Linked DNA regions of Homo sapiens. The protein of the gene in region 2 purifies or fractionates together with the protein of the main gene of each other region. This does not show direct contact. Each region holds a gene or a part of one and is shown on either strand. Other genes may lie near its edges. The genes, in order: FSD2 and TAPT1.

Region 1 (3,436 bases), on a different chromosome or scaffold from region 2:
CCCCAAGCACACACAAATTTGAAAGCTGCTTTGCTTTCTAATAAAGAGGCTTTTCCTTTGATTTTGGAAGATAATTTGATGTCTCTTTTCTCTTTGCAGGTATATGAGCTCCCTGAAAGCACAAAGCAGTTATTTCCATCTTCAGATCATTCAGAGATTATGAAGGCACAAACCCTGCCTTCAATTTGCTTATAGTCAAGTGGAGCAGACACAAGTCAATGATTGCAGTATAGCCACTGAAGTAATCTAAAAGAGGTGAGTGTGGCACTTAACCTCTCCTGGGAGGGGGAGGAATAAGGCAGTGTTTCCAAGAGGTGATTTTGGAGCTATACAGGCATTAGGTAGACAAGGAAGGGGAGGTCCATTCTGGGTGCCTAGGACTCTGTGGCTGATTTATAAATCGTAAATGGTACAAAAAACAGTGTTGAGTATCTTTTACCTTTCTCCAGAGTACTGTTCTTACTTTTGGATAGTGCTTCTTGTTTTTTCCTTCCCTCTCCCTGTCCCTGTCACCTTTAAATTAAATGAATGTTTGGAAGGAAGTAGGAGGGTAAGAATCTTTCTGGGTGGCAGAATAATAGATGGGTCTACCAAGAGCGATGTATATACCCAGTAAAGCCATCTCTAAAACTGTGTTTCTGCATTGTTACAGTGCATAGTTGGGAAATCTCAGTTTTGTTGGCTGTGTACTTTCCCAGTGAATGGATTATATTCCTTTCTGCGAGCCAGTCTGTTTGAATTTAAGGGCATCTCTTAAATTCCTTTCAAGCAAGAGACCTAACATTTATACTTAGGAATGAGAGTAGTAGAGACAGCAAGATTAGAATCCAAGTTCATATACCAAAACATTTTTATTTGCTATGTCTGAGTGACTACATGTTGTTTGAATCAACTGCAGGCTAATTTGTAACATTTCAAATAAATGATAGTTTAATTCCTCCAGGATTTGAGTAAGGTGAAAATAGAGCTAAAAACCATGATTCTGTCACAGTCTGGGAAAATGAAAAAGCAATCAATTAGTGAGTTGGGCTTAATTTTTTTTTTTTTTTTTTCTGGAACTGGTGATAGCAGAAAACAAGCAGTAAAGTAGTCAGACATGATATACTTGACAAGAACCACCACCTGTTCAGTAGCAACTCTAAAATAAGTACTAACTTAGGGGCAGTTGTTGTGCCCAGGTCATAGTCATACTCCTTCCAGGAGACTTCCTGATGACAGAAAAGATGCTGACCAGCTGGGGTCTTCTTTCCAAATAACTTTTCTCTTGCATTTAGATTAATTAACCATTGGTTACAGTGAAACAAGCATATGTACAGAGTTAATCTCCTATAGCTTGAAGTTATACATGATCTTTATTTGAGTATCTTGACTTGTTAAAGGACAGTGTTTTAAAAGCTGGATTTGGTTATGTTCTTCTGGAGACTAAGAAAATAGAGTCCTTGAAATCAAGCTGACTCTGCTTTTAGCCTCCTAAATGAAAAGGTAGATAGAACAGGTCTTGTTTGCAAAATAAATTCAAGACCTACTTATCTACCAACAGCAATTACACGCTTTCCATTGTCTTCCTATAGAAAATAGGAGTAGTACACTTATAGATGAGAAAACTGGAGAAAGACATAGTGAACATGTGAGAATCTTGCTCTACTAATTGATAGGAAGGTGACTAGAAATTGGCGAAGTTTTCTTGGTAAGTTGAGGAGAGGACTTTTCTTATAGTGCAGTCTGGTAGCTGAACCGCCTTGCATCAAGACCAATGTAGTCTTATTTACAGAATGCCACATCACAGTGAATTGTGCTGTGGACAGCTTCCAGTGTGTGAGTTGTGGAAGATGATGATTTTAACAGATTTTGGAGGATGAGAAGTATTAAGAAGAAGGCCCCACTGTCCATGCATTTGCTCTGCTTTTTACTTTTGACCAAGTATACACTTCAGAAATATCTTATTGGATGTATACAAAGTGATTGTGTGTCATTTGAACCAGCAGGAAGTAATTTATTAAACACACTTTTCTAAATAAAAGTCATTTAATTTTATCAGAAATCAGTGTCATTTTAGATTGCAAGTCTCAAACCAACTTTCCAATTCTGACTTGTAAGGGTGCCTTAAATCCTGAATACTGTACTCTGTATTACTAAACCCATGTTAGTTTACGCCAAGATTCTGTGGTGGTTTTACATATTCTTTTTCCCCTTTGTTAAGGTGGGGAGGCCACAGCTTATGTGAATGACTTTCTCAGGAGTTATAAAGTGATACAGGTAAAGCTAAGAAAAGAACAGATTTTGATAACTTTTGTTTTAACTGTCCAGTGTTAGGGATTGTGGCTACAGTGGTCTAATTTTTAAAAACTCTTTTTTTTGCTTTGTTTTTTAACAGACTTATCAGCAGGTTGCAGGTGAACATGGCCTTGAGGTAAATCTGTCCCTTGCTGAATACAGTTTCAGTAGATTGTTTATAGTAGTTTCAGGAATTGAGATTTTTTACAAAAATACAAAAGTTTTGCTTGGTTCTGTTCTAGATGTTTTCTTCTAAATAAATGAGAAAGATGTTTCAACAAAGGCTCTTTATGCTGAATAATTGTGATGCTTGAAGTTGCTAATCTGCTTTAAGTGGATTTTAAATGTCAGGCAATTCTAGACAGTTTTTTCTTGGTCAAATAAAAATTTAATTAAAACTTTATACGTGTTGAGTTTTTAATCCATTTATCCGTGTTCATACTAACGTGTAGTATTCCATAAAGCCTATTAGAACCCTGAATTCAAACTTGCCTTCTCTGTGATATCCTGTTTCTTACTTGGTAGTTTCTATTTCAGTAGCTGAGAACTTTTTTTTTTTTTTTTTTTGAGATGGAGTCTTGATCTGTGAGCCATCTCGGCTCACTGCAAGCTCCACCTCCCGGGTTCACGCCATTCTCCTGCCTCAGCCTCCCGAGTAGCTGGGACTACAGGCGCCCGCCACCAGTCCCGGCTAATTTTTTTGTATTTTTAGTAGAGACGGGGTTTCACCGTATTAGCCAGGATGGTCTCGATCTCCTGACCTTGTGATCCATCCACCTTGGCCCCCCAAAGTGCTGGGATTACAGGCGTGAGCCACCGCGCCCGGCCGAGAACATTTTTAAATATACATGATATGTATCTTTTAATTGTTTATAACTGGAACTATTTCTGTGCTTACATCTGCTGTCCCTTGTTTCAGAGTAGACAGTCCAGCTTGGCAGGATAGGTGTGTGTGTGTATAACGAGTTATTAAATTGTCAGTGTGAATTGTTAATTCAGGAATCTGAGCTGCCATTTATACGAGTAGGCAGAGTTTAGTAGGAGATGAGAGTCTTTCAGTTTGTCAGACTTTGCAGGTGCTGGAAAACATCAGAGGTTTTTTGTTTGTTTGTTTGTTTGTTTTTGAGACAGAGTTGCGCTCTTGTTGCCAAGGCTGGAGTGC
Region 2 (3,832 bases):
CTTCCCAAACATGTATAATATAGACTTGCTTCATTACAGAATTATCTGAAAATAAATGGCCTTGAGAAATTTAAAACACTATCTGAAATGAGCCAAAGTAACTTTTGTAAACTCTAACAAAGCAAAACTACCATCGAATTTAAATTAATTGTATTTGATTTTTGGACATATGGCAGCTGCAAGTATAGAGAAAATCTGCAATAATTTCATTTCTAAGGATACTGATGAAAGGGGGAAAAACTTATCTCATTAAAGGTGTATTTAAGGCAAAACAGATTTTATTTTTTAAGATTTTTTTATTTTTTTGAGACAAGAGTCTTGCTTTGTCTCCCAGGCTGGATGCAGCCTCCACCTCCCGGGTTCAAGCAATTCTCCTGTCTCAGCCTCCGGAGTAGCTGGGATTACAGGCATGTGCCACCATGCCCGGCTAATTTTTATATTTTTAGCAGAGACAGGGTTTCACCATGTTGGCCAAGCTGGTCTCCAACTCCTGATCTCAGGTGATCCGCCCATCTTGGCCTCCCAAAGTGTTGGGATTACAGGCGTGAGCCACTGTGCCTGGCCCAAAACAAATTTTAGAAAAGCAGACTATTTCAAAATATGATAGAGATTAATAAAAATGGATAAATTTGGTAAATGAATGCGATTTTATAAGATGAAGGATGTGAAGGATGGCAAGCTTAAAGATTAAAAAGTGACACCATAAAAATTAACTCTATCTTTATTTGATAAGATAAAGATACAAAACTATATCTAACTATAAAAATGAGGCTGTTATGTGAAGATTTTTTGGAAGTTTTATTCTTACACTTTCACAACTTTTACATTTAAATGTTTTACATAGACATTATAAAATCAAGATTTGACTTTTAAAATTTGAGTTAAAAAATACCCAAATTTTAAGTTTCTCCAAAGTAAGATATAAAAAGAAATAAAATTTTTATGAGAATAACAGAGTCTGATACTGATAATCAAACATATATTAGATAAATAATGCAATCAGCAACATATTTATACCATCTCATCTTCAGAATAGTCAGGGTTCGGATTAGAACTGAACTCTTACATTGATTAAAAATTAAAATTTCTAGGAATGTTTTCTCCTAACCTTTATTAAGAAGCTTAAAAACATTGGTATTAATGCTTTTAAAATATTTCTGACATTCAGGTTATTAAGCTTTTTCCTTGCTATATTACCACTAACAGGGATATACTTTAACATACTTGCAGTCACATTTTAAATATAAAATGAGTGACTATTTCCAACAAACATCCACATTTATTGCAGATATGCAGGCTTCTAAGAGTGCTAAGTGAGCTATAAGCTTACTCCAGACAACCTAACTCCTGAAGGACCTTTCTAAATGCACAGTTCACATTACCAATGCGTAAAAAACTACCTAAAATTCTTCATCTCAAGAATGCAAACCAGAAAGGCTGGGGTTCCACATTCAGCTAACGCTTATGTTAAAATGAAGTGAAGAAAAGGATAATTTGTTAAAAATCTGGTTTTGGTAACTAAACTACTTTTCACATGTCCTCAGGCAATTCCTCCAAAGAAAATATACAGTGAGCTACCACTGAAAGGGGTAAAGTTACTCTCAGATTTCTCCATGAAGTCTTCTATATTAAACCAGCATGAAGGACTGAACCTTACACTACGTATCTGGCAACTCAAATTCTGATGGAGAAAAAATTCATAGGAAAATTCATAAGAAAAAAATAGCCGATATGAGTATCCCTCCTGACTGGCTCTCATTAAGTAGCTACTACTGAAGCATATGAAGAAGGCAACATATTCATATAAAGAGTAAAAAGCACCTCTTGGTGACTCCTGATCTTTCCATTTTAATAGCTGAACGTTGCCTAGAATATTTTTTTTCTTACTTGAGAAGGGTCTTAAAATCTGCCTTAGGGTAAAGTTAATTTCTTATAAAACTCTTAAAGGGTACAATGCGGACCACCTTGCATTGTAACATGAGCTACTTTGCTTACAGCAAAAAGTAATTTTTTTTTTGGTGCTAAGTAGTAACCATTTTAAGCCAAAATAAAGTCCAAATTTCTTGTAGACTGATATGCATACCTGATCATTATATCATTTTTTTTCCCAGAGTTTTCTTAAAACTCAAATATTGAATACCTAATCTTTCTAAGCTAAGAGGTTGGAATTCTGGGGAACCCGTTTATAAAAATGAAAAGGGGTATTAATTACATCAACATGCTGGCCATAAGGTTAAAAACATTCACAATTTCCCCCTCATAATTTTGAAGCTTTTATACACAAGGATTGAAAACCTTTAAAACTTAAGATCTGCGTGTCTAGTTTAAGGCTCTATAAAGAGCACTTACCCAAAGGAGGTTACTAATATGAATTAATTTAAAAAAAACATGGTTTCCACAACAAACGAAATTCTTACAGTTGAATCAATTTACTCTATGGTTAACTACTGAAGCAAAGTATTCTATAATTTAGTACCTTCCCTCCTTCCTCTTTCATTTCTAATTCATGACACTTGGCAGTCTGCACTTGAAAGGTGAGCAACATTAATAAGCAGCAAGAATATGAACTGCTTCTCAGAGCCTTGAGAGTCAGGTCCAGCATGGCCTCATAGAATCATCTAGGCTTTATGTTCAAGTTTTCCATTTGTTCTTTTTGTTCCTTGCTTAGTTTTCAAATCTCCTATAACTTGTTTAACATATTCATATGCCATTATTTTCCTTGTCTAATATACAGGTAAAATTTACATACAGTGAAATGCACAGATCTTAAGTACATTATGTGATGAGTTCTGATCAATGCATAACTTGAGACACCAAGCCCTTAATACAGAAAGAAGTTCCATCATCCAGAAAGCTCCTTTGAGTCCCCTTAGTCAATCCAAATGCCCAACAAACAACCTCTTATTCCTATCATCATAAACGAATTTTGTCTGATCATAAACTTCATATAAATGAAATAATACATCATGTACACTTTTGTGTCTGGCTTTTCTGCTCAACATAATGCTTCTGAGACCTACATAGCTGACAATATTAGGAGTTCATTCTTTTATCTTTAATTGCTAAGTAGTATTCTATGGTATGGATATACAGTTTGTTTATTTTCCTACTGATAGCTATTTGGGTTGTTTCCAGTTTTTGGCTAGTATGAACAAAGCTGCCATAATAATTCTTGCAACAAGTCCTACTGAGGAAATATATTTCCTGAATTACAGGGCAGGTGAACATTTAACTGTAAAAGAAATGGCCAAAAACAGCAGTTGTAATACTTTACACTCACGCCATCGATGCCTGAGTGCCAGTTAATCCATATCCTAACTTGTGGCACTGTCAGGCTACAAGAGCAGTCACTCTGGAGGGTGTGCAGTGCTATCTCATTATGGCTTTGTCTTTCTCCAGTGACATTTTCCCTAATAATGCCGAGCAGCTTTTCATGACCTTATTGGACATTTATAGATTTTCTTTTGTGAAATGTCTGTTCAAGCCTTTTCCCCATTTTAAAACTAGATTGTCCTTTCATTATTGATTGGTATAGTTTGTTATATATTCAGAAAACAAACAAACAAAATCTATCGTCAGATATATGCATCTCAAATCTTTTCTCTTAGTACTGTGGCTGGCCTTTTCACTTTTTAAGTTTTATGATCACATATTTTAATTTTGAAGAAGTCCAGTTTCTCTCTTTTGTTTTACATTTAGTACTTTTTGTGTGGTCTCCAAAAATGTTTGCCTAGACCAAGGTTGTGAATGTTTTCTCCTATATTTTGTTCTAGAAGTTTTATAACTTTAGCATTTATGTTTAGGGTTATGAACCACTATGAATTAATTTTCT

Evidence for each region.
Region 1: the proteins of TAPT1 (region 2) and FSD2 purify together in Homo sapiens (co-immunoprecipitation; one large-scale study listed by IntAct). This does not show direct contact.

Annotation. Positions count from the first base shown.
Region 1 is NC_000015.10:82,754,530-82,757,965, forward strand, and holds the end of FSD2 (fibronectin type III and SPRY domain-containing protein 2), read right to left. Parts: 3' UTR 833-3,436; downstream 1-832.
Region 2 is NC_000004.12:16,181,304-16,185,135, forward strand, and holds part of TAPT1 (transmembrane anterior posterior transformation protein 1 homolog), read right to left. Parts: intron 1-3,832. UniProt on the Homo sapiens protein: Plays a role in primary cilia formation. May act as a downstream effector of HOXC8 possibly by transducing or transmitting extracellular information required for axial skeletal patterning during development. May be involved in cartilage and bone development.